Homo sapiens: one gene and its partners. The protein of the gene in region 1 purifies or fractionates together with the protein of each later gene. This does not show direct contact. Each region holds a gene or a part of one and is shown in the gene's direction. Other genes may lie near its edges. The genes, in order: RABGEF1, HERC1, ZFTRAF1 and GAK.

Region 1 (5,260 bases):
CCGTCTCCTGGGTTCAAGTGATTCTCATGCCTTAGCCTCCCAAGTAGCTGGGATTACAGATGTGTGTCACCATGCCCGGCTAATGTTTGTATTTTTAGTAAAGACGGGGTTTCACCTTGTTGGCCAGGCTGGTCTCGAACTCCTGACCTCAAGCAATCCACCCACCTCAGTTTCCCACAGTGTTGGGATTACAGGCATGAGCCACCGCACCTGGCCTCATATTTCTTAATATAAATGAAACATACACTTGCCTACGAGGGAAGAGCGTTTTGGATTCAGTTCTTTATCCAAAGCGAGTCAGACAACCTGGAAGTCCCTGAGAAGTGTGAAGGTGGAGACATGGCAGGTATTGAGAGAAGTGGAGGAGGACCAGGACGTGTTTGAGCGTAGCCACGGTCACTGACAGTAGAGGTGGCTGGCTTGCACACACTTAGCAGCTTCTAGTGCCCTTGGCCTGCAGCCTTAAGTACATTTGTGCCTTCTCTCTTTGTCCTCTTCTTGCCTGACTCAGAGTCTGTCTCCTACACCCATTGCTCCAATGAAACTGCTCTGGCAAAAGTAAAAAGTTTCCAGCTGACGAACCCCACGGGCACTCACAGTCTTCATCTTCCTTCGCTTCTCATAGCACTCTCCAAGAGTCCTTTGTTCTGCAACTTCTGTTGTTCCTTGGCTTCCACAATTCCACTACTTCCTTGTCTCTTTGTAAAGTCTGTGTCTTCTACTTCCACCTTGAATTGTGTCATTCCATGGGACTCCATTGTCTCTGCATCTCTCTTCCTGCACCATCTTCTCTGTCACAGAGCTGTCACTCACTGTGCAGTGATGGCCTGCAGCTCTGGGTCACCTGTCTTGACCTTACACTTGTATTGCACCTCAAATATAATTTGTTCAGAGCTACTTCCCCTTCAGATGTTTGTTTCTTTTCCAGTATTCTCTATTCCTTTTAGTGGCAATGCCATGTCTCCATTCACCTAAGTGAGGAGTTAGAATCACCTCCTCTTTCCAGGTCACAGAGGGGCCACAGCAACTCCACACACACCATGAGCCAGATGGTGTTCCGTTCTACTCAGATGAATCAGATTTTTCTTTTTCTTTATTCCTTTTTTCTAGAGATGGTTTCTACCCCGACTGTTTCCCAGGCTGGTCTGAACTCCTGGTCTCAAGCAATCCTCCCACCTCGGCCTCCCAAAGTGCTAGGATTACAAGCACGAGCCAACACGCCTGGCTCAGATGTCTGTTGAATTGGGCATTTGCAGTGCCATGTCTGTACTAATAATTGCTACCGTGTATTCATTGCTCGCTGCAGGCCTCTCGGAAGCACGTGACATGTTATGTTGTTTAATTCTCACAATAAATCTAGGTGGTATTTCCCCCCATTTACAGGTACAGAAACCTCAGAGAGCTTAAGTAACTTTCCCACGGTCACTCACTGTTGTTGTTAAGTGAAAGAGGTGACAGTGAACTCAGGTTCAGTCACTTCAGAGTTGTTCCTTTTTTTTTTTTTTCCTGAGACAGTCTTGCTCTGTCACCCAGGCTGGAGTGCAGTGGCGTGATCTTGGCTCACTGCAACCTCCGCCTCCCAGGTTCAAGCAATTCTCCTGCCTCAGTCTCCCAGGTAGCGGGGATTACAGGCGCCCACAACTGCGCCCAGCTAATTTTTGTATTTTTAGTAGAGATGGGGTTTCACCATGTTGGCCAGGCTGGTCTCAAACTCCTGACCTCATGATCCACACGTCCCAGCCTCCCAAAGTGCTGGGATTACAGGCTTGAGGCACCGGGCCCGGTCTGGAGCTGTTCTTTTAACCACTTGATGTTAAAATATTCATTTGAGGATCAGAGGTCTGTGTGCCACACCTACTTGGGGACTATATCCTGGGTGGGGATAGCAGGTCTGGGAAGACTCAGACAGAATGGCTTCATGGTGCACCTGGGGAGGCTGCACCCAGACATCGGCCCTGGAGCTCCTGGGAGTGTATAGGAAGCACGACCGGGGATAGGAGTAGGTAATTTTTGAGGCTGAAATACACAGAAGTTCATGAGTTTGTTTTGTTTACTTTAGCTTCTGTTTTAAATGGTCTGTGATCAAAAGATTTTTACAAATCGACTCGAGTATGCATAGCTTTCCTAATATGACTGTATTAACGTCCTCTTCTTGTAGTGCTGTGCTGTGGCTTTCATTGAGAAGCTAGACGCCCAGTCTTTGAATCTAAGTCAGGAGGATTTTGATCGCTACATGTCTGGCCAGACCTCTCCCAGGAAGCAAGAAGCTGAGAGTTGGTCTCCTGATGCTTGCTTAGGCGTCAAGCAAATGTATAAGAACTTGGATCTCTTGTCTCAGTTGAATGAACGACAAGAAAGGATCATGAATGAAGCCAAGAAACTGGAAAAAGACCTCATAGATTGGACAGATGGAATTGCAAGAGAAGTTCAAGACATCGTTGAGAAATACCCACTGGAAATTAAGCCTCCGAATCAACCGTTAGCAGCTATTGACTCTGAAAACGTTGAAAATGATAAACTTCCTCCACCACTGCAACCTCAAGTTTATGCAGGATGATCACAATTTAGTGGAGAGTATTTATTTGAGCCTAAATTGTAGGTAGCCCTTACTACACTCAACTGATTGGGATCTAGAATGTAACTAAATTGCTTATAAATGTCAGCATTTTTTAAAGGTACAGTATATGGGGATTGTTTCGTTTTTCCTAGCAGGGGAACCTTAGTTAATAATAAAATACTACTTATTTGAGTTACTGATACAGATTCATTTAAGGCTTGTGTGCAAATTTTGTCTCAATCTTTTTTCCCTCCATGATTTTCCTATGTGCTTCCTCTGGCATTCACTGTGGTTTTGGTAAATAATTGCCTTTTAAAGGATTAAACAAATGAATGCTACAAAGTGTATGTTCAAGAAAATTAAATGGTACCACTCTTCCACAGTTTGGAATAATTTTATAATTGTAAAGATAGAAATTATATTGATAAGTAAATATGTAAAATTGTAAATATGTAAAAAAAAGAATGGTGTCTGCTGTGCATGGCATTTTATATGTTAATTTTTTAGTTTAAAATGAAGTATATTGAATGTTTGCCTTTAGCACCATTTTATTTGGTTTGTCCCACTAAAATGACTCGAGAAGTGTTTAGACAAACTCCCCTTAAGATGTGCACTCCATCTTTAAGAACGTGTTAGCCTTAACTTTGAGGTTCTATATAGTCAGAGACTATGACACCACTAAGGTTCAGAATAAAGTTTAGGCCACATAAAATTGCTGTTTAATGTAGTCGATGGAAGACTTTAAACTATGCTTCTAGCTTATTTTTCCCTCATTCATTCAGCAAATCTCTATTGAGTTCTTCAGTGAGAAGGAGCAGGCACTGGGCCTGGAATGGAAGGCGGGAATGAATGGGCCTCTGATGGTGAGAGGTGACGGGGTCCCTCAGCTGTGAGATGCAAGGGGCGCCTTGCAGCCTCCATAATATACATTTGACTTTGCAAACGTCTAGACATGTTTTCTGAACCTTTTTCAGGACATTTCAACCTCGGGACTATTCATATTAGTGGCCTGAGAGGTGTTTGTTGTGGGGCCACCCTGTGCATGGTAGAATGTTCAGCAGCATTCCTGCCATCCATATCCATTAGGTGCCAGTAGCACCCCCGCTAGAGCTGTGAAAAATTCTCTCCAGACATAGTCAGATGTCTCCTGGGGCCATATCACCCCTCCGTTAAGAACCACTGATGTCTTTTACAAACCAGGAGTTATCCTCCTGGTGGTTAATATGGTGTAACCAAAGAATCTTGCACTCAATGCACAGTGTGATGTTAACTAAAACGAGTTAAATATTTAGGAGGCTTGACAGCTACCTGCATTGTAGAACCTTTTCTTATCTCAGTGGAACCTTCTATAACCTAAATATACCATTGATGATTCTTCTTCCATTCAGTGACATCCACAGATTATGCAGCTATACTTGTGAAATCGTGCATGAGGCCCCAGGGCACCGTTCTAGAACAACGTCACTTCACACAGGCAGCTGAGAAAGGTTCTCTTGCTTTTCCAGTATCTTCCTAAGGATGGAGCCCAAAATTGCAGAGCAGTAACTTTGGAATAAAACCAGGGTGGGTATAAAACTTCTTATTCTTAAATTTACATATAAGATCTATTAAGCTTGACACATCTGTGTCATCACGCACTGAAGACAGGAAGCAGTTCACTGAGTCAGCTGGTTCCCAAGCTCGCACAGAAGGTGATAAGTTACTATCAAATGCCAGTGAGAATCTTCTTATAGAATAACCTGGGCCCAAGTGATTTTAGTACAAAACTTGCCCTTCTTTGGTTTAATTTTCTATGTGCTTTTAGGTGTGAATCCAGATATGCGGTCTTAATTCCTTTGGAAATACACAGTTCGTTTAGTTACTGTACACTCTGTTTGTTCAATAAACTGCATATCAACTTCCCACAAAAGCTGACTTTTTTGGGTCTCTTACATATAAAGTAGGTTATTGAGTTGATTTTTTTGGAGGTATCTCATATTGGTCGAATTCTTCTGGTATGGACTCTTGCCTTATATAGAGGCTTCTATTTCTCTTAAGTCAGCATCAATACAACGGCCGGAGTTTCTGTTTTTGCAATAAGAAGATGTTGGTATTTTATGTAGGGTAAATGTGACTGGAATACACCTTTGGAACGGAATTCTTTATCAATAAAGTTTCACAATCCGTCCCTCTTCCAAAAATTGATTTGGTTCTTTCTTAGGAAAATATACATTATTATTAATATTCTCATGCTACAGAGGTTTTCTGGTTAAGCTATACCTAAAAATGAAACATTAGAGACATTTGTCAGTTAAAATTAAGAAGACAAGAATATTTGCTGTCACCACAATCAATCAACCTTGTTCTTGCAGTTCTACCAAGGTACTCAGTCTTCAAACAGACATAAAAGTAGAGAAAAAAGGAGTTAATGTAATCAATATAGAGCTATTATTGTCTGTTGGTGAGGACATGAACTCTGAAGCTGGAAGGCTTGGATTTGGTTTTGAATTTTATTCTGCTACTTATTAGCTCATTGGCCCTGAACAAATCTCTTGTTTCAGATCCCTCAGCTGTGAAATGGGGTTAATAATATTACTGCTTCATGGGGTTGTTGTCTGAACTTAGAACAAATGATAGCTATTATTTGTAGATGGTTATTTTATGTAGAAAACCCAAGAGAAGGCTGGGTGTTGTGGCTCACGCCTGTAATCGCTTTTGGAGGCA
Region 2 (7,028 bases), on another chromosome or scaffold:
AGGAAGGTCACATCTGCTAGCATTTTCTTTAACTACAAAAAGTGAAAAAGAGCATAAAGTAGTTGTTTACTTACTAGATGCCAGATCCGATTTTCATGATTTTAGTTTGTTCTGATGTTGCCTACCGGGCTCTCTAAATTAATGGGACTGTTAAATTTCAGATGAGATCCTTGAGCAAGAAGATATGACAGTTGTATCAGATGATTGGTTGATGGATTTTATTTATTTTTAATGATTTATTTAGAAATAATGTTAGACTTACAGAAAAGTTACAGAGAGAGTACAGAGTTCTTACATACTCTTCACCAAGCTCCCCCTAATGTTAACAACTTACATAACCATAATACAGTGATCAAAACCAGAAGTTAGCATTGGTGTAACTCTATTGACTATAGATTTTACTTAATTTCACTGGTTTTTCCCCATTAATGCCTTTTTTTTTGTTCTAGGGTCTAATCTAGGTTCCCACGTTGCATTTAGTTGTTGTGTCTTCTTCATTTCCTCCAATCTCTGACAGTTCCTCAGTTTTTGTTTTTCACGACCTTGACATTTTTGATGAGTACTGTTATTTTTTAGAACTTCTTTCATTTTGGGTTTGTCTGATGTTTTTTCTCATGATTTGATTGAGGTTAAGCATGTTTTGCAAGAAAACTACAGAAGCGATGTTGTGTCCTTCTCAATGCATCATATTGGGGGTACATGGTGTTGACATGTCTTTTTGCTAGTGGTATTTTAACTTTGAACCCTTAGCGGTATTCTTCACAGTAAAGTTACTATTCTTCCCTTTATTGTTCATACATATCTTGGGGGAGACACTTTGAGACTGTGGATGTACAGTTTCTCCTCAAACTTTCTCCCATTGATTTTTAACATCCATTGGTAGATCTTGTCTGCAACAGTTATTACTGTGGTGTTTGGCTAATCATGATTTTGTATTTCCCTCATTCCTTCTGCATTTATTAATTGGAATTCTTTAAGGGAGAGATGTCCCCTTTCCCTCACTTATTTATTCAATTATTTGTTTATATTAGTGTGTTCTTATGGGATCTCTATTTTCTATGGATTATAATCCAATACTATCATTATTTATTTTGTTGTTCAAATTGTTCCAGCTTTGGCCATTGGAAGCTCTTTCAGGTTGGCCTCTACCCTTTTTCAAGCACTTTCTTATATTCTGGGGCCACAGGCTGTTCCATGCTCATCTTATTTTTCCTTGCACCAGTCCTGGAGTCGACTACTTCTCCAAGGAGCTCTGGTTTCTTTTATTGGAGAATAGTATTTAAAATCAAAATCTGTATACTCGGTATGTTTATTGGAGTTTTATTGCTCCCAGGACTTCAGTTGGCAGAACTAGGAAATATATCAGTATATTATATATATATATATATATATATATATATATATACACACACACACACACACATACATATATGTGCACACATATTATTTATATATGTGTGTGTGTGTATATATATATATATATATATTTATATAAACATATATGTGCACACACACACACACATACTGACGTTTCTTTCTTTTTTGAGACAGGGCCTCACTCTGTCACCCAGGCTGCAGTGCCGTGGCGTGATCATAGCTTACTGCAGCCTTGAACTCCTGGGCTTAAGCCATCCTTCCACCTCAGCCTCCCAAGTAGCTGGGACTACAGATGTGCACCCACCATGCCCCGCTGATTTTTTTTTAATTTTTAGTAGAGACGAGGTCCTGCTGTTTTGCCCAGGTTGGCCTTGAGCTCCTGAGCTCAAGTTATTCTCCCACCTTGGCCTCTCAGAGTGTTGGGATTCCATGCGTGAGCCACAGTACCCTGCCTGTATTCTATATATATTTAAAACCATGGGTTCATATTGACACCTATTCTAATCCAGTACCACAAAGTTCATTCTAACCTTCTCCCGTTCCTTCTGTCTCTGTCAGAAACCTGGCTTTCATGATATAGAGTAAGTATACTCACTTATTTGTTGACTTCTAGAATACACATGAAGTGGTTACAGATTGCTAACCTGTACCCTAGTGAAAAATGTATTTACTAATTAGTGTATTTGTATGTAGTTATTTTTGCTTTAGCCTTATAGTATCTAGTCAAAATAGTTTTCCAAAGTTACTTAGGTTAGTTATTTTCTTTACCACTCCCTTTAGTTTAATCTTATTCATCCCTAATGCATTAAGTTCATTTGTTATTGTTACTGTTCCATTTTGGGTTCCCTCCAACCCTAGTTGATTTTAATTATTATTATTTTTTGGCATATGAAACATTATAGTTACTAAACACTGCTTCTACTAAACACTACTGTATAAAAAGGTGTACTGGGCTGGGTGCGGTGGCTCATGCCTGTAATCCCAGCACTTTGGGAGGCCGAGGAGGGCGGATCACCTGAGGTTGGGAGTTTGAGACCAGCCTGGCCAACATGGAGAAACCCCATCTCTACTAAAAATACAAAATTAGCTTGGTGTGGTGGCGCTTGCCTGTAATCCCAGCTACCCAAGAGTCTGAGGCAGGAGAATCACTTGAACCTGGGAGGCGGAGGTTGCGGTATGCCAAGATCACGCCATTGCACTGCAGCCTGGGCAACAAGAGCAAAACTTTGTCTTAAAAAAAAAAAAGGAAAAAAGTTGTACTGAAAAGTGTCACTCTCTCCTTGTTTTTACTATCTCATTTCCATCCCTCCATCTTTGTTTCTACCTCTTGCCCATGCCCTGTGGGTACATAGTCTCTTTAGTTTCTGGTTTGTCCCTTCCTTTATTTCTGTTACACAAATGAAAATATATGTGGGTGTTCTCTTATATTCCTTTTCTTCTGATACAGTTACTTATTGCCATACAATTCACATACCATACAACTCACCCTTTTAAAGTGTACAATTCAGTGGTTTCTAGTATATTCACAAGATGGTGCAACCATCACAACTATCTAATTCCGGAACACTTTCATCACCCCCAAAAGAAACTGTGTATCCATTAGCAGTCACTTCCCAGGTCCGCTTCCCAGTCTACTTTCTGTCTGTGTGTGTTTGCCTATTCTGGATGTTTTGTGTTAATGGATCATATAATATGTGGCGTTTTGTGCCTGGCTTCTTTCACTTAGCATAATTTTGTCAAGGTTCATCCATGTTGTAGCATGTATCAGTACTTCATTCCTTTTGATAACTGAATGTTATTCCGTTATGTGAATATACTACATTTTGTTCATGCGTCAGTTGAGGTACATTTGGTTTTCTACTTCTTAGCTGTTATGAATAATGCTGTTTTGTACATTCATGTACAATTTTTTGTGTGGACATATATTTTTAATTCTCATGGGTATATATACCTAGGAGTGGAATTGCTGGGTCATATGATTACTGTATGTTTAACTTTTTGAGCAACTGCCAGATTGTTTTCCTGTTCCCTTCTTTTTTATGTGGAGAGTATACTATACTCTTTTGCACTTTTTTTCACTCAATAGTATATCCTGGAAATGACTCCAAATCAGGTCATTCTTTTGAAGAGATATTCCTTTCATTTTCTTCGGTCTTTTTTTTTTTTAAGACACAGTCTCACTCTGTTGCTCAGGCTGGAGTGCAGTGGTACAATCATGGCTCAAACTGTGGCCTTAATCCCCTGGGCTTAAGCGATCCTCCTTCATCAGCCACCCAAGTAGCTGGGACTACAAGTGTGCACCGCTATACCTGGCTAATTTGTTGATTTTTTGAGATGGGGTTTTGTCATGTTGCCCAGGCTGGTCTCGAATTCCTGGGCTCAAGTGATCCTCTCACACTGGCCTTCCAAAGTGTTGGGATTATAGGCGTGAGCCACTGCACCCAGCCTATTCTTTTTTACAGCTGTGACTTGACTGTGTAGATGTTTCTTAACCTCTTCAACCATTCATCTATGTATGGGCATTTAGGTTGTTTCTTATGTAAATAGCCTTGCGCGTAGTATTTTGGTATCGTTAGAACCGTATCTTCAAGGTAGATTTCTGTAAGTGTGATTGCTGGTTCAAAAGTTAAGTGCACATGTAGTTTTGTTAGATATTCCCAAATTCCAGATTTTCCTCCACAAGTATACCAATTTGCATTCTCACCAGTAATGTGTGAAAGCACCAACAGAATACGTTGTCATACTTTATATATATATATATATATATATATATATTTTTTTTTTTTTTTTTTTTTTTTTTTTTTTACCAGAGATAAGTGATTAAAAGAATAGTAGTCATTCGGGTGACCCCTTGTGGATGAGTGCTTAATGCTTGCAGATGGTTGGTTCTTATAGCTTGAAAATGAAATACATTGTCCACTAATACTGCATTCATACATGTAGCTTATTATGTGCAGGTAAAGTCCATTAGTTCTGGCCTAGTCAGGATTGTTCATTTTAACATTTTGCATTTAATGGAAGTGCTACATTGATTCATAGTACCTGTGCTCTAAAATACTTTTGGGGTTTAACAGAGGATAACTGAAATTCTAAGAATATTTCTTAGGCTAGAATATGTGATATGGTAGTTACTGGTTCACATTGTACATAGTTATTTTGAACGGTATATACAGTACGTATTGATACCCATGGTATGGTAGTTATTTGGACCAGTAATGGCAGTATCTTGGAACCTGTCATAGTTCCATAAGGAAGAAGGGCAGTCGTAATGAAAATTAAACCGCGAGTTTAAAGTTCTGGGTTAGGGCAATCCTATTAGATTTTAGCGGTGCCAAAAAACCAAGACAACATGAAGAAATCCCCATCTTTTAGGGTAACAAGTGCTGCCCAGCAACACTGGAAATTTAGGTTCATTCCCAGAAAGAGTGCTGCTCCAGGTGCTTGGAACACATTAATTGAAAATCAAAGATTCTGGCACTTGATGAGTTTATATTCCATTCGTTTTCTTTTTAAGAAATTATTATTTGGCCGGGCGTGGTGGCTCACACCTGTTAGTTCCAGCACTTTGGGAGGCTGAGGTGGGTGGATCACCTGAGGTCAGGAGTTTGAGACCAGCCTGGCCAACATGGTGAAACCCCGTCTCTACTAAAAAAACAAAAATTAACTGAGCATGGTGGCGGGTGCCTGTAATCCCAGCTACTCGGGAGGCTGAGGCAGGAGAATCACTTGAACCCAGGAGGTGGAGGTTGCAGTGAGCTGAGACCCACCGCTATACTCAGCCTGGGGGACAAGAACGAGACTCCATCTCAAAAAAAAAAAAATTATTATTTTTCTTTTTTTTCGTGGTTTTCTAATGAACTGATGTTCCCAGGAAAATAGATGCTGAGTGCTGATTGTGAATGGAACCAGTAAAGGCCTGGGATAGTCTTAAAGTACAATCACCTTTGCTGCTATAAAAACTTCAAATAATACTTCATTTTACTGATTACAAAATAAGCCCACAAAAGTCACAGGATGGTAACATATTGTTCACCAGTCTCTTCTCTCTCATTTTATTTGTTTATTTCAGGCTTACTTACTTATTTATTGTATAAATTTAATGTGTACACATGATGTTTTGATATACATAGTGAAATGATTGCTGTATGTAAGCAATTTAAGATACCCATCATCTCACATAGTTACTTTTTTTGTATGTGCTAGGAACATTTAAAATCTACTTTTAGAAAATTTCTGGTATATAATATGCTAATATTAATTATATTGCTCTTGCTAACTTTATTTATTTTTTGAGACAGAGTCTTGCTCTGTCACCTAGGCTGGGGTGCAATGGCATGATCTGCGTTCACTGTAACCTCCACCTTGGGTTCAGGTGATTCTCATGCCTTAGCCATTGGAGTAGCTGGGTGTGTGCTGCCACACCTGGCTAATTTTTTGTATTTTTGAGGAGATGGGGTTTTGCCAAGTTGGCCAGACTGCTCTCGAACTCCCGGCCTCAAGTGATCTCCCTGCCTCGGCCTCCCACAGTGCTGGGATTGATTACAGGCATTAGCCACCGTGCCCAGCCCTCATGCTATATTTTAGATCTCTAGATTTATTCATCCTACATAACTGCAACTTTGTTCCCTTGACCTGCATCTCCCCTACTCTCCTAGCCACTGTTCTAGTCTCTGTTTCTATGTATTTGACTTTTTTTTTTTTAAGATTCCACATATAGAAGAGATCATTTAGTGTTTTTTTTTTTTCCTACGTCTGACTTGTGTCACTTAAGACAGTGTCCTCCAGTTTCATTTGTTTTGTTGTAAATGGCAGGATCTCCTTTTTGAAAGCTGAATACTATTCCAGAGTGTGTTTGTATCACAATTTCTTTATAGAGCCATCCACTGACAGACGTGTAGGTTGGTTCCATATCTGAGTTAGTGTGAATAATGCTGCAGTGAACATGGGAGTGCAGCTCTCTCTCAGAGGTGCTGCTTTTATTTCTTTTGGGTTAAAACCGAGAAGAGAGATTGCTGGATCATATGGTGGTTTTCTTTTTAATTTTTTTTTTTTTTTTGAGATGGAGTCTCACTCTGTTGCCCAGGCTGGAGTACAGTGGCATGATCTCAGCTCACTGCAACCTCTGCCTCCCGGGTTCAAGTGATTCTCCTGCCTTGGCCTCCTAAGTAGCTGGGACTACAGGTGCCTGCCACCACACCCGGCTAATTTTTTTGTATTTTTAGTAGAGATGGGGTTTCACTGTGTTAGCCAGGATGGTCTCCATCTCCTGACCTTGTGATCTGCCCACCTCGGCCTCCCAAAGTGCTGGGATTATAGGCGTGAGCAACTGCGCCCAGCCCTTTTTAATTTTTTGAGAAACCTACATACTGTTTTCCATAATGGCGGTTCCAATTTACATTTCCACCAACAGTGTTCAAATATTCCCTTTTCCCCACTCCCTCATCAACACTTATCTCTTGTCTCTTTGATAATTGCCATCCTCACAGGTGTCAGGTGATACCTCATTGTGGTTTTGATTTTTTGATTTGTGTTTCCCTGATGATTAGTGATGTTGAGGCATTTTTATGTCCTATTTGGAGAAATATCTATTCAAGTCATTTGCCCGTCTTAAAATCAGGTTATTCATTTTTGTTTTTTGCTATTGCGTTGTG
Region 3 (7,164 bases), on another chromosome or scaffold:
TCTTCCAGGGACACCGCGGCCGCGCGGCCCTCGGCTGCGCCTTCCGACCCATCCTCAGGCTCGGAGCTGGCTGCCGGTCAGGGAGGAGGGCGGGAGACATTTCGGGTCACGTGCTTGAGCCAGGCCTCCGCCCCTCCCTGGGAGGTCCCGGCACCGCCCTCGCACCGCGGGACTCCCAGCCCGCACCTACCGGCCAGGCCGGTCAGCTCGGTCCACAGCTCTGGCGCGGGCAGGTCTGGGCGCCGGCGACCCCGGGGCTTGCGGGCTCTCTAGGGAGGGGGCAGGGGCGCCCCTGAGGAGGGGGGCAGGCAGCCTGCTGGCCCCTTCCCTCCGCGAACCGGGCCGGAGGATTGGGGCCGAAGTCTACGCTTCCAGCATCGGGGCCGAGCCGAGGGTCCTCGGCACGGCCCCGTCGCCCCGCGCCCCGTGCCCGCCCCCGCCCCGGGAACCTCGGCGTGGGGGTGGGGCAGGCGGCGGGAGACGACGGGCTGCACGGCCAGCCCCGCTCACCTGGGCGGGGTCCCCGGGCTCCGCGGCCGCCGCGGCGCCACCATCCCTGCGGAAGAGGCTGTAGAAGATGTAGATGAGCAACGAGTAAAAGGCGTACATGGGAGCGCGGGGCGGCAGAGGGCCCCGCTTCGCGCCGCCCCGCGTCCCCGCGCCCAGACTCGGCGCCCGCCCGCCGCAGTGCCGGTGCGCATGCTCGCGACGGCCGCCCCCACGGCCCGGCTCCCACGGCTGGAAGGCGAGCGCGGGGACGGGGGTACTAGAAACAGGTGCCCGCGGCCGCACCTGGAGACCCGCCGTTTCTCACGGCGCCGCCCGGCGCGCCCCAACCCCTACACCGCGGACACCGGGCTGAGAGCGCCCACGGCTCCCGCGACCCTCCTCTCGGAATCCCTCCCACCCTCCGCGTAGTCCCCCACCGCTCCGGTTTCGCGGAGCCTTCAACACGCCGGGGTTCTCCTTCCTCTCCCTACAGCCCCGCCCATCTCAGCCCCGCCCATCTCAGCCCCGCCCAGACCCCCCCTCCTCGCAGCCCCGCCCAAACCCCGTTCCTTGCAGCCTCGCCCAGGCTCCTCCCCTCTCGGTCCCTCTCAGTCTCGCCCAGACCCCTCTCCTCGCAGCCCCGCCCAGGCCCCGCCCCTCGCAGCCACGCCCAGACCCCCCCATCGCATCCTCGCCCAGGCCCCGCCCCACCCAGGCCCCCTCCCTCTCAGACCCGCCGCTCTCAGCCCCGCCTAAACCTTATCTCCCTCAGCCCCGCCCAGACCCCCCGCCCCTCGCAGCCCCGCCCAGACCCCGCCCCTCGCAGCCCCGCCCCGGCCCTTCTCCCCTCATCACGCTCCTTCCAAACCACTATGCCCACGCACGCACCCACCCAAACAGAGCGTTTTCTGGTCCCCGAGCTCCTCCCGACCCCACCCGCTCCTACGGCCTCCAACCGGCCCCCCCCAGGTCTCGACCCTCTCCCCCAGGCCTCGACCCTCCCCCCCCAGCCGCTCTAGCCCCGCCCGGCCGCTCTAGCCTCCGCTCCTCTCGCTGGTGGAGGTTCCCGACCGCGCTCGCTCCCGCAACTGGGGGCACGGCAGAGGAGGCAGGGCCGACGGCGGTGGGCGGTGCGTTGCGCAGGCTCGGGCCTCCCGCTCGCCGCTGCGTTGGGACCGCGCAGCCCGGTAACTGCGCACGGCTGGCCTCCCGGAGTCCTGCGCCGTCGCTCCTCCTGGACCCGGGTTCCCAGGACAACGCCTCCCGGAACGCAGGGAGCAGGCCGAGGCCGCCGCGTGGGCCTGCAGCGCCTCGCCGCTCTCTCTTCCCCAGGCCCGCACTCCCACTTGGGCTCCAGGGCCCCAGGGCTGACGTTCCCCCCAGCTTAGACCCTGAGTCGTTTTCCCCCGTTTCCCGGCTGAATTAGGTTCTTCTTCTCCACAGGTGTGTGCAGTGGCCTCAGGGATCCGGAAAGTCTAGGACTGAACTTCTCCTAACATCCAGTAATGGGGACCTGGAACCTGGGCTTACTAGAGTGCCGCGCGTAGGGCTCCAGGTCGCTGGCTTCTGCGCTTCCTTCCTCTCCAAAGTTGAGTATCTCCTATCTGTGTCCTCGTACATACTGCCGCCTGAGGTGCCATGGCCCCCAAGCCGGGGGCCGAGTGGAGCACAGCCCTGTCCCATCTGGTGCTGGGAGTGGTGTCTCTGCACGCAGCCGTGAGCACAGCCGAGGTGAGTACACTGGGGCTGAGCAGGGGCGCATCCCCATACCTCCCAAACCCCAAGGACCTAGTTTCCTGAATTAGAGAGAGGTTGGTGGGAAGTGCGTCTAAGACCAGGTCTCCATGGAAGCCCCAAACCCTTTCCTGTTTAAAAGGGTGACCCCGGCCTCTTTTTCCCACGTGTTCTCCCTTCCCTGTGTTGACAGGCAAGTCGAGGGGCTGCTGCTGGCTTCCTGCTCCAGGTCTTGGCTGCCACCACCACGCTGGCCCCAGGGCTGAGCACACACGAAGACTGCCTTGCTGGAGCCTGGGTGGCCACCGTCATCGGCCTTCCCCTTCTGGCCTTCGATTTCCACTGGGTGAATGGGGACCGCTCCTCTGCCAACCTGCTCCTGGGAGGAGGCATGGTGCTGGCAGTGGCTGGCGGCCACCTCGGCCCTGAGGGCCGCTCTGTGGCTGGTCAGGCAATGCTGTTGGTGGTCGCAGTGACCATCCTCATTGTAGCTGTCTTCACGGCCAACACTTATGGGATGTGGGGGGGGGCGATGCTGGGTGTGGCAGGCCTCCTGAGCCGGCTGGAGGAGGACAGGCTGCTGCTGCTACCGAAGGAGGATGTCTGTCGCTGGGCCTTGGCTGTAGGCAGCTGGGCTTACTGCCGGGCCCTGCATACACAGCGCCTCCAGTGGGAGTGACAGTTGGATACAGCCAGGCAGGGTTTCTGCCCTGCCGAACACTTTCCCTCCCACCTGCCTGCTCCTGGCGCCTTCTCCCTAGGGGTAGACTCTTCTGCCTACTGAAGTGGGTTTGCTGCACATTGACTGGTCAGGGGCAGAGTCTGGGTGCTGTCCTTTGGCCACGTGTGGGGACTTGTCTAGACCAGAATGAAAGGGACAGGGTCCCAGACACGTTTGGGGGTCCTGATTCTGGGCTGGACACGGTTGTGGATCCAGAGAAGAGGCCTAGTCTCCAATAAATCTTAGGAATTTTGCAGGAATATGAAAACTGCCCATTTTTGAGAGGGATTGAGGGATCTTTCAGTGAGCTTCCTAAGGCCCCTCAGGACAGTAGTCAGTTACCCTGACAGGGTATGTGCTGGAACTAGGATGGGGTCTCATGCAGCCCGGCCTCCTTTTGACTATTGTCAGGAAGACCCCTGGGCTGAGAAGACATAGCCCTGGGCCCTTACTCTCCAGGGACATGGTGGAGTTCCAGATATCCTGGCCTGGCCTGGCAGGTGGCCCTCTGGGGCAGTGACCTTCAAGAACTGAAGAGTAGGGTGGAGGCAGGGGAGGGCTGTACCACAGGCGTTTCGAGAAACGCACATCCTTCCCAGAGCTGATTCGCCCTCCTGTGTACCTCCGGCCTGTGGAAGCCAGCCCTATTCCCTAATACCTTCGTTTTCCTCAGTGGACCCCTTCAGTCTCCAACCCCAGGGTTAGAGGGGGTTCGGACGAGCAGAGGATTAGATTCCGGTGGGTTAGGGGTCTGGAGTCCCCTCTCCTGGAAGTCTCTCCGCTTGCTCCTGTGGAGACCTAAGGGGTCCCGCACCCGACAGAGAGGGGTGGCCGGCGGGATTTTTCACTTGTGTCCTTCCCCTGCGGGGAAGGGGGCGAGAGCCCCTAACACAAGCCTGAGTCTTGGGGGACAGAGACACAGGCACACCCCGCCGTAGGGGTCGGCGGCCGCCACTGGCTCGTGGAGCGTGGGTGCCGCGCCGGCGCCACAGCTCGCGTGGGCCTCCCTGCCCCCAGGTGCGAGTCCCTCCGCGACTCTCGCAGGCCGCGCCCCCTCCCCGCCCACCTTCTGCAGGGGCGGGCCTTCGGGGGCCCTCGCTCTCCCATTGGCTCTAGTCCCTGCGCTTTCTTGCCCCAAGCGGCGCTCCCATTGGCCCCGCGTGGGGCTCACGTGACGGGGAAGACGAGGGGGTGGTGGCGGCGGGGCGGGGGGAAGCGCACAGCGAAAACAAAGATGGCGGCCGTGCCGGGGTCGGTGGCCGCGGCGGCTGTGGGGCTACGCGCGGGCCGGGCCCACTGAGGCGGCGGCGCAGGGAGCGGGGCTGCGGGTTCGCGGCGGCGGCGGCAGGAGAGCGGCGGGAGCGCGCGGCGCCCCTAACTTCTAGTCGGGGGAGCGCGCCGGCATCCGCCCGCCGGGCCGGCCGGCCGCTATGTCCGGCGCCGAGGAGGCCGGCGGGGGCGGCCCGGCCGCGGGGCCCGCGGGCTCCGTGCCGGCCGGGGTCGGGGTCGGGGTCGGAGCCGGGCCCGGGGCGGCCGCCGGGCAGGCGGCGGCGGCGGCTCTGGGCGAGGCGGCGGGGCCTGGGCTCCCGGACGAGGCGGGCTTGGCGGGCGCCCGGCAGCTACAGCTGCAGGAGGCGGCCGGCGACCCCGACGCGCCGCCCAAGAAGCGGCTGCGGGCAGCCGAGGCGGCCGAGGCGGCGGCGGCGGCGGCGGCGGCCGGCAGCGGGAAACTGGAGGAGCGGCTCTACTCGGTGCTGTGCTGCACCGTGTGCCTGGACCTGCCCAAGGCCTCCGTGTACCAGGTAGGGCCGCCGGCCGACCCCGACCCGGCCCAGCCCGGGGCTGCAGCCCCCGCCGCGGGGCCCCAGGATCCGCGTCTCCTCGGAGGCCAGGCCTGCGGGGCCCGGCGGCCGGGAACCCTCTCTGGCCCTTACAGCCACTTCCTCGCCCAGCGGGGCTCCAGCGGCTGCTCCGAAGCTCCTCGTTGTCTTTCTCTCAGGGCTTTATTTTCCGCTCGGGACCCCCCTTTTCTGTTTTCTGATCCACGGTACTTCCCGATCTGAATCGCTTGTCTTCCGCTTACCTCTCCCTTCTTTTTTCTAGACTTCCCCACGGTCCCCTGAACACTCTCCCAACCCACAGCCTCAAACTGATCCTTAGCCCGCAACTGCTCCCCGCAACCCACCCGGTCCCAAGCTCCCTGGGCTCAGAGTCCTGTGCTCGAGAGCTCCTTCCCCATTCTTCCGGCAGCCACACCCCCGAGTTTGTCCCTCCACTCCTGAACATCCTATGGACGCCTCCTTTTCTACCCTCCTGGGTGGAAGAATCCTTTCTCTTGGTCCATTTCCAGTTCATCCTGAAGAACAGTAAGGAGAGGGGATTGCTGTTTGTCGGGATGAACCATTTGCAACAAGCCCCACAGTTTGGGTACCTTCTCCAGTCCCAGCCAAACCCCACATCCAACTGGACTTGCCATGCCCCACGCTAGGCTCCTGCCCACCTCACCCAGGCCAGGCCAGGCTTCCTAGGCAGCCAGTGCTCCAGGAGCCGGCCCACCCCTCCTCCCCCATCTTCACATCCGCATGGCAGTGGGACTCAGCCCTTAAGCAGCCTAGGGCTGTTAGGGTACCTGGCCCAGGTGGGTTTGACATGCCCTTTCCCAGGTAGCAGCAGGGACAAACTGGTTGACACCCAGAGGCAGAGTACAGTGTCCCCACCTTCCCTGTGTCTTTCCCTCTCTTTCAACTCCCCAGTCCCTGTGAGAAATGAAGCAGGTTCTCTGTCAGCTTTCTTTACACTTACAGGAGCTGGAAGTAGCTAATGGGGCCTTGTTTCCCTGCTTGTGTTTGAATTGGGGGCCTGGATGAGGAGCTACTTTTGTAGCAGGTGGTGTAGGGCTAGTCTAGGTTGCCATTTCTCCAAACTCTGGATCTCCAAGTCCTTCTTGCTGTGGCATGACCTTGTCGGGAGGACCCCAGTGTGCCTGGGTGGGGAGAGGGCACTGGCTCTAACCCACCCTCCTGGGTGTCAGGCACCAGGGCCAGCTAGGGGAGCACTTTTCAGAGCCACTGGCTCCCAGAGTTAGCAGTTACTCCTTGGCTTTGGCAGTGCCTCAGCTTCCAAGATGTGCCCACTCTCCAGCTCCTTTTTCCTGGCTCACAACCTTCGATCCTCCCAGGCGGAAGAACTCTCCTTTTTTTTGAGACGGAGTCTCACTCTGTCACCCAGGCTGGAGTGAAGTGCCACGATCTCTGCTCACTGCAACCTCCGCCTCCCGAGTTCAAGCAATTCTCCCTACCTCAGCCTCCCGAGTAGCTGGGATTACAGGCGCCTGCCACCATGCCCGGCTGTTTTTGTATTTTTTAGTAGAGACGGGGTTTCGCCATGTTGGCCAGGCTGGTCTCGAACTCCTGACGTTGGGTGATCCGCCTGCCTCGGCCTTCTGAAGTGCTGAGATTACAGGCATGAGCCACTGCGCTTGGCCAGAACTTTTTCTTGGATCTCGAGGGAGACTCCAACAAGCCAAGCCAATGGTGTGAGGCCACGGGGGAACAGGGAAGTCTCCTTGTCTCCCCATTGGTGGGTGGGCTGGAGCTGTAGCTGGACCTGGTGGTGATGGGCCACATGGTACTGGTCCCTGGTGCACTGCATCCCCCATCTAGACTGGCCCGGCACAGAGTGATGGCTCTGCTTCTGACCGGAGCTCCTGGTGACCAGGCCTCTGAGCCTAGCTGGTTCAAACCGGCCTGCACTGTGCAGAGTGGAGTTCTGCTCTGGGCGGCCAGAGGCAGGGAGCTGAACAGGTGTAATGGAGACCGAAGGCGCTGGGGCTGCCCTGGCTGGTGGCCCTCCCTGGCCTGGGGGCTCTGTTCAGTGACTTCCCTGGGAACAGAGCAGCTGAGCGAGGAGTGCTGTGGGCACAGGCCTCCCTGAATGCTGCGAAGAACACCTCCGGCGGGTGGCTCTCGGCTGTGAGTGGTGCCCCTGGAAGGTCAACACAGACCTGGAGACCTGGGCTCTGGCCTGCTCTGCTCCCTGGAGAATCTGGGCACAGATGGTGTGGGCCCCCACATGCTGCCTTCTGCGTGTCCCTGGTTGGGCCCATGCTGGCCATCACCCCAGCTTGGGTTCAGTCTACCATATTCTACTAGCTTTCCTTGGTGACCACGTTGATTGGCTGTCTCGAGCCAGCCAGTGTCAGGAATGCAGCAGGTTCCACC
Region 4 (7,028 bases), on another chromosome or scaffold:
TCACCCCTGCACTCCCCACAGGCCCAGGCGTCACCCCTGCGCTCCCCACGGCCCCAACGTCACCCCTGCGCTCCCCGCGGCCCGGGTGTCACCCCTGTTGTTCCCGCAGGCCCCGGTGTCACCCCTGCATTTCCCATGTTCCCGATATCACCCCTGTGTTCCCTGCAGTCCCCAGTGTCACCCCTGCGCTCCCCACGGCTCCGATGTCACCCCTGCATTCCCCGTGGGCCTGGGCATCACCCCTGCTCTCCCCGCAGGCCCAGGCGTCACCCCTGCGCTCCCCGTGGGCCTAGGCATCACCCCTGCTCTCCCCGCAGGCCCTGGGCTGCATCTTGTACCTGCTGTGCTTCCGGCAGCACCCTTTTGAGGATGGAGCGAAACTTCGAATAGTCAATGGGAAGTACTCGATCCCCCCGCACGACACGCAGTACACGGTCTTCCACAGCCTCATCCGTAAGTCCCGGTGGAATGCGTGCGTGGGGCAGGACCCTGGAGCACAGACCCCGCGTGGCTCTGGAGACCCCGCTCCCCTTGGGGCACTGCTCACCTGGCCCCACTCCCGCCCGTCACCATAGTTTTGACAACATCCCTGGGGGGGGGGTTTCCAGAGAGCTCCCCTGCCGCCCACCCCGCTGGTGAATTTGCGGTGCTCTGAGTGGTGATTTTTGATCATTTTGTTCGGTTTTTGTTCTTCCCTTTGCCGCTCCCTTCTTGCTTCTGACGTCACTGATGTGTGTAGAGGGAGTGGCCTCTGGTGGTCTGTGACCTCTGCCAGTGCAGGGGGTGCTGACCCGCCTGGGGAACCGTGGGGCCGAGCGCGCTGTGCTTCTGCTGCAGGCGCCATGCTGCAGGTGAACCCGGAGGAGCGGCTGTCCATCGCCGAGGTGGTGCACCAGCTGCAGGAGATCGCGGCCGCCCGCAACGTGAACCCCAAGTCTCCCATCACAGAGGTGAGGGAGGCACACGTGAGCCCCAAATCCCCCGCAGTGGTGAAGGAGGCACACATGAGCCCCAGATCCCCCGCAGAGGGGAGGGAGGCACATGTGAGCCCCAGATCCCCTGCAGAAGGGAGGGAGGCACACGTGAACCCTAAGTCTCCTATCACAGAGGGGAGGGAGGCACACGTGAGCCCCAGATCCCCCGCAGAGGGGAGGGAGGCACATGTGAACCCCAAGTCTCCTATCACAGAGGGGCGGGAGGCACACCTGAACCCCAAGTTTCCTATCACAGAGGGGAGGGAGGCACATGTGAGCCCCAAATCCCCCCACAGAGAGGAGGGTGGCATGTGGCTGTGCTGCTTCGTCCGGACCCTGCACCCTGGGGGTCTCTGCCCACTTCAGTGGGGAGCCACAAGCTCTTGAGGGCCCTGGGCTCCTGCAGGAGCAGGGTCACCACCGCAGCCCAGGGCCGAGACCCCGGGGGCATGCTGGGACCATTGCCAAGGTCTTCGCACTCTGCACGCGCTCCTCTGGCCTCCTTGAGGTTTGCAGGCGCCTTTCTAGATTCTTCCCCTGACAGGACAGCATGAATTGCTCCTGTGTCTTTGTTTCTGGGGTCTGGTGTCCAAGCCAGGTCAGCCAGCCCTCAGCTCTGGGCGTCCTGGGGTGTCCTGAGTTGCTCTGCGTCTGTGTTTCTGACCCTCAGCTCAGCTCTGGGCGTCCTGGTTGCAGTTGTGTCAGGGCTGGGCCTGGCCAGGGTCCACTCCCAGGCACCGGTGGCTGCTGGCAGCATCAGGGCCTGGGGGCTGGGAGACTGAGGCCCACAGGGCCGTGTGCTTTGTGGAAGTGTGAGGCCTGGGAGGGAGCAGCACGTGTTGGCTGGAAGATGCTTTCCTCAGAGTCTTTTCTGACCCAGCCGTGGACAGGGTGCAGCATCTCCATCACCAGATCCTCGAGGCAGAGCAGACACGCGGCCCGGCCCTCACCCACGGGGAGCAGGGAGGCCCCTGGGCATCCCAGCTCAGGGCCCAGTCAGGACACGCAGGGCCCCTCTGCAGATCTCGCAGGGGTCTGTGTCCAAGGACCCAGGACTCTTGGCTCCTGCATTTTGTCCCCTTTTCAGCCCTTGGGTCGTTTCCACTCCCTGGTAGCTGGAAGCCGGAACTTCCAGGGGCCACTGCAGTGGAGCTGACCCAGGCGGTGGGTGTGGAGCGTGGGGAGAAGGTCAGAGCTGCTGCCCGGAGTCCCTGTCTGAGGACAGGACCCTGTGGGACAAGGAAGGTTTGGGCTGTGTGGAGGGTTTGCAGTTCCTTGGGGGCCGCGTGGGTACAGAGACCTGGGAGCAGGGAAGTGCTGGGAAGCCCAGTGCAGACGGGGAGAGGCTGTGGTGCCCCTCTCTGGCGGCCATCATGGTGGGTGCACCAGCAGAGGGAGCCCTGGTGCTGGGTGCTGGAAGCATTTTGAGGTGTGGGGCGCTCTGAGGCGGGAGAGTTGATGTCACTGGTGGCCTCTCAGCAAGCTTCCCTGGGGCTGTCAGAGAGCGGCAGGAAGGGATCACTCCTGGGCCGTCCTGCTCTTTAGCAGCCTGGGCCTCGTGTCCCCCTCGCTTGGTGGCTCTTTACAGAAAATGCCTGCCCACTCCCCCGGAGGTCACAGAGGACAGTGGGCTCGCAGGGGGGTGTGGGCCTCTTGCTTTGTCGAGTGCGCTGGAGGGATTCTTGATGGGGCGGGAGGAGGTGCCGCTGGGCAGATGGGCAGAATCAGGCCCCTAGTGATGGGGCGGGGTCCTCAGTGCTTCTCATCTGAGTGCTTCTAGGCCGGGACCCCGTGGGGACAGACGTTAGACCCCTGCTTAAGCCAACCGACTCCCCCAGAAAACACAGTCCATGATGGAGCTGAGTTCACAATGAAATAAAATACTGCCCCCAGGAGGTAGTGAGCCTCACAGGGTGGCCCCCAGAACCCAGGAGCTGAAGTGATGGAACATCCTGGGACAGACAGGCCATGTGTCTGCTTAATATGGTTGGGCATGCGAGGTGGAGGCTGCAGTGAGCCCAGATCATGCCACTGCACTCCAGCCTGGGAGACAGAGTGAGACTCCGTTTCAAAAAAAAAAAAAAGAAAAAAAGCCTGGGTGCAGTGGCTCACGCCTGTAATCCTAGCACTTTGGGAAGCCGAGGCAGGCGAATTGCCTCAGCTCAGGAGTTCAAGACCAGCCTGGGCAACGTGGTGAAACCCCATCTCTACTAAAATACAAAACAAATTAGCCAGGCGTGGTGGCGCATGCCTGTAGTCCCAGCTACTCTGGGAGGCTGAGGCAGGAGAATTGCTTGAACTCATGAGGCGGAGGTTGCGGTGAGCTGAGATCGTGCCACAGCCCTCCAGCACTGCAGCCTGGGTCACAGAGCAAGACTCTGTCTCTACCAAAAAAAAAAAAAAAAATGTTGGTTGGACAGACTGGGAAGAGAGAGAAAAGGAAAAGGAACAGAAGCTGTAGCCCAAGAGTCTGAAAAGCTGGGCTGGAGTGCTGAGCACCTGCAACAGCCCCAAGCGAGGCAGGCCGCGGGGTGAGGGGATGAGGGCTGCGTGCGTTTGTTGAGTTCCAGCTGATGCTTCAGCCTGTGGGAAGTTCCTCCCTTGCACTGTGTCATAGATCAGGGGGCAGAAGGATGGGCTCTGAGGGCACCCATACCGTACCTCTGCCCGACGTGGGCAGGCGTGAGTTGTCAGTTTAGAGAACTGACCTCTGCATTTTCATTGTCACAGCTCCTGGAGCAGAATGGAGGCTACGGGAGCGCCACACTGTCCCGAGGGCCACCCCCTCCCGTGGGCCCCGCTGGCAGTGGCTACAGTGGAGGTGAGTGCCCTGTCCTGTGCCCGCCACCTGTCCCTCGCTCCTGCTGCACCCCGGGCACCCGCAGCACATTGGGATGGAGTCTGGGGTCCTTCTCTCCCGGGGCCTCCTCTCCCACCAGAGATGACTGTGAGGTCAGGGTCCCTGAGCACACCCTCAGGTTCGGCAGTTCCCTGGGGCTCACAGAGCTCAGCAAAGCTGGTGTCTTGGTGCAGTTCAGGAGGGGGTCAGGATTCGGACTAAAGCCAGCCAAGGGAAGAGGCTCCAGGGCAGGGCCCAGGAGACCGGGCCCGAGTGACCAGGCGGCCTCGCTCAGGGGTTATGTGGGAGGCAGCCTGCGCCGTGGCCAAGACCCCAGCATAGATCACATTGTCGTGTCTGGCACAGCCCAAGGCCCCAGGGAAACAGACACCCCTTTTGGGGCTGGAGGGGGCATCCCAGGTTCCTTCCCAGGAGCTGGGAATGAAGGGCCAGGCCTGCTGTGGGCAAGGTGAACCATTTACTACAGTAGCGACCCTGAGGCCAGGGGGCAGGAGCAGGCATTGGACAGTGGAGGGCGGTGGGGGAAGACAGTTCTGCCGCTAGTGTGAGGTGGCCCCTTCTGCCGCATGAGGAGTGGGCACCTGTGATGGGCCTGGGTGTCCCTGGAGGGCCCTCAGCTGGTGAGGAGTGGAGAGGGCCCTGGAGACAGACGCTGCATGCTCTTGGAACTCCGTGCCGGGAGTGTTCCAGAAGGTTCCGGGTGAGCCGTCGAGGACATGGCCCTGACAGGCAGCGGCTGGGTCTGCAGCTCTGCATGGCGCTGACCCCTCCCGACCTCGCCCCGCATCCCCACTGCGGTGTGGGAGGTTTCACCTGGGTCCTTCACCTCCGCTTCCCAGGGAGGAGCTCAGCTCCATGTCTGGGGCACCCCGGTCCGTGCAGTGTGGGTCCCACACATGCAGGTGTAGTGGCTGGCTGGGTCTCTGCTGGCTGGAGGAAGGGTGAGTCCTCGAGCTGCTGGGTTCTGCAGTGCCCCCATCTGCTCGGTGCTGCCTGGGCCTCGGTCTCCTGTCTGCATGAGGGACTTTGGCCAGGTGTTTTTTTTTTAACACCACTTGTGCCACCAAAGCCGCCTGTGAAGACCTCACTCGCAGGACCCACCAGGCCAGGGGCCACCACTCTGCCTTCACGTCCAGGGTCATGGTGGCCTGAAGCTGTGGCCGTGAGGCCGGACTATCCCCACAGACAGAGTCCCAGCCCCAGCTGTGCTGAGGCGGCCACATAGCCCTTCCGCACCCAGATTGACCATTTCCTGGGTCTCTGGAAAGGCTGAGGACAGGGTAGACCTGCCAGTGCTGAGGCCTGGCTTCCCGCTGGGTACGTGTGGGTCAGGGGCCTGGCCATACCACCCACTCCCTGCTCCTGCTGCCTGGGCCCAGCCAGCAACCTGCACCTGGGGAGGTGGGACCGAGCGCCTGGGGAGGTGGGACCGAGCGCCTGGGGCCTGGGCCCAGCCAGCAACCCGCACCTGGGGAGGTGGGACCGAGCACCTGGGGCCTGCTGAGACTGTGTCTCCCTGCAGGCCTGGCGCTGGCGGAGTACGACCAGCCGTATGGCGGCTTCCTGGACATTCTGCGGGGTGGGACAGAGCGGCTCTTCACCAACCTCAAGGACACCTCCTCCAAGGTCATCCAGTCCGTCGCTAAGTGAGTGTGAGGCTCCAGAGCCCTGGACCTGCCGCACGCTCGTTCCAGGCTGCAGCCCCGGCCCTTGCTTCCTGGCTGCGGTGGAACAGCTGGTCATCAGGCCCCACAGGGGCCCCTGAGGCAGTGGGACAGCATCACCCGCTTCTCCCAGGGAGTCGGAATGAGCCCAGCATCCCACAGAGCCAGGCAGATCCCTTTCCTTTCATCGCCTGGGGGGCAAGGCCCTGCTGAGGAGATGCCTGGGCCCTCCCCTCCCTTGCTGCAATGTCGCCCCTCACTCTGGGGCGTTCCTGGCTTGTTCCCGGGACTCTGTAAATTGGGTGAAACCTCGGTGGTGGCGCCTCACTGAGCCAGTCCTTGAGTTAAAGCCCTAGTTACTCAGACTTAGACCAGGTGAGTCCCAGCCTGTGGTGGGAGAAAGTCTCCCTCTGGGTGGGCTGTCCAAGGGCGCGTCTGTGCGGGGGTGGCCCCGACATCGGCCCACAGGCCCGGCAGCCTCTGCTCACGGAACACTGGGAATGTTCCAGAGTGCGGCCCCTCTGCGTTGCGGGGTCCATGCGCTGGCTCTTCTGAGGAGCTGAACGCCCAGGAGCACGCTGGCTGCTCATCTGGCCCTGCGGTCGCACCAGCTCAAGGGCGTCGGCTATGTCAGGAAACAGCCTAGGAGCTGGGCTGGACTGGTGCCCGTGATGCAGGAACTGCGGCCCCTGGTGGGCCCACGTTCCTTCCACAGCTGGCGACACCTTCGGGCTTTTTCTTATGTTTTTTGTTCTGTGCTGTGATCACTGTTTTGTGTCCCCAGCACCAGGTAGACGTGTGTGCACTTGTGCCTGCATGTACCGCAGCGTCTGCACATGTGAGCGTGGGTGCATGTGTCTTTGAGCATGTGTGCATGTGAGGGAATGGGTGTGTTAACATACATATGTGAACATGTGTGCATGTGTGTGTAAATGCTGGTGTGAGTATGTGCATAGGCGTGTGTGATTGCTGGTATGAGCATGTGTGCTGGTGCTTGTGAGTCCTTGTGCTTGTGAATCCTTGTGTGAGCTGAGTGCTCGTATTGTGTGCAGGCACGTGTATGAGCACATGTGCATGTTGGAGCATGTATGCGTGTGTGCATGTGTATGCATGTGTAGGAGTGCTTGTGAGTGCGCGTGAGCTGTGTGCATGTGTACACGTGTGCGAGTGCCTGTGAGTGCACGTGAACTGCATGCATGTGTACGCATGCGCGCGAGTGCCTGTATGAGCCGCGTGCATGTGTACGCATGAGTAGGAGTGCCTGTGAGTGTGCGTGAGCTGCGTGCATGTGTACACACGCATGCAAGTGTGTGTGAGCCACATGCATGTGTACGCATGCACACAAGTGCCTGTGTGCGTGAGCTGCGTGCATGTGTATGCATGTGTGCGAGTGCCTGTGAGTGCATGTGAGCCGCATGCATGTGTGCACATGCGCGCGAGTGCCTGTGCCTGAGCTGTGTGCACATGTATGCATGCGTAGGAGTGCCTGTGAGTGAGCATGAGCCGCGTGCATGTGTACACGTGTGAGTG

The links.
Region 2: the proteins of RABGEF1 (region 1) and HERC1 purify together in Homo sapiens (affinity purification with mass spectrometry; 2 studies listed by BioGRID and IntAct, with this or other methods). This does not show direct contact.
Region 3: the proteins of RABGEF1 (region 1) and ZFTRAF1 purify together in Homo sapiens (co-immunoprecipitation; 3 studies listed by BioGRID and IntAct, with this or other methods). This does not show direct contact.
Region 4: the proteins of RABGEF1 (region 1) and GAK purify together in Homo sapiens (affinity purification with mass spectrometry; 2 studies listed by BioGRID and IntAct, with this or other methods). This does not show direct contact.

The regions. Positions count from the first base shown.
Region 1 is NC_000007.14:66,806,728-66,811,987, forward strand, and holds the end of RABGEF1 (rab5 GDP/GTP exchange factor), read left to right. Parts: intron 1-1,110; coding exon of another isoform or gene 1,111-1,149; exon of another isoform or gene 1,150-2,158; coding exon 2,159-2,557; 3' UTR 2,558-4,737; downstream 4,738-5,260. UniProt on the Homo sapiens protein: Rab effector protein acting as linker between gamma-adaptin, RAB4A or RAB5A. Involved in endocytic membrane fusion and membrane trafficking of recycling endosomes. Stimulates nucleotide exchange on RAB5A. Can act as a ubiquitin ligase.
Region 2 is NC_000015.10:63,823,939-63,830,966, reverse strand, and holds part of HERC1 (probable E3 ubiquitin-protein ligase HERC1), read left to right. Parts: intron 1-7,028. UniProt on the Homo sapiens protein: Involved in membrane trafficking via some guanine nucleotide exchange factor (GEF) activity and its ability to bind clathrin. Acts as a GEF for Arf and Rab, by exchanging bound GDP for free GTP.
Region 3 is NC_000008.11:144,459,865-144,467,028, reverse strand, and holds the start of ZFTRAF1 (zinc finger TRAF-type-containing protein 1), read left to right. Parts: upstream 1-4,157; 5' UTR 4,158-4,374; coding exon 4,375-4,746; intron 4,747-7,164. Other genes in the region: kinesin-like protein KIFC2, read right to left, coding at 1-70, 191-269, 511-609; TMEM276 (transmembrane protein 276 precursor), read left to right, coding at 2,128-2,220, 2,417-2,902; TMEM276-ZFTRAF1 (uncharacterized protein LOC157542 isoform 1 precursor), read left to right, coding at 2,128-2,220, 2,417-2,569.
Region 4 is NC_000004.12:887,299-894,326, reverse strand, and holds part of GAK (cyclin-G-associated kinase), read left to right. Parts: intron 1-317; coding exon 318-453; intron 454-837; coding exon 838-950; intron 951-3,704; coding exon 3,705-3,795; intron 3,796-5,356; coding exon 5,357-5,480; intron 5,481-7,028. UniProt on the Homo sapiens protein: Associates with cyclin G and CDK5. Seems to act as an auxilin homolog that is involved in the uncoating of clathrin-coated vesicles by Hsc70 in non-neuronal cells. Expression oscillates slightly during the cell cycle, peaking at G1.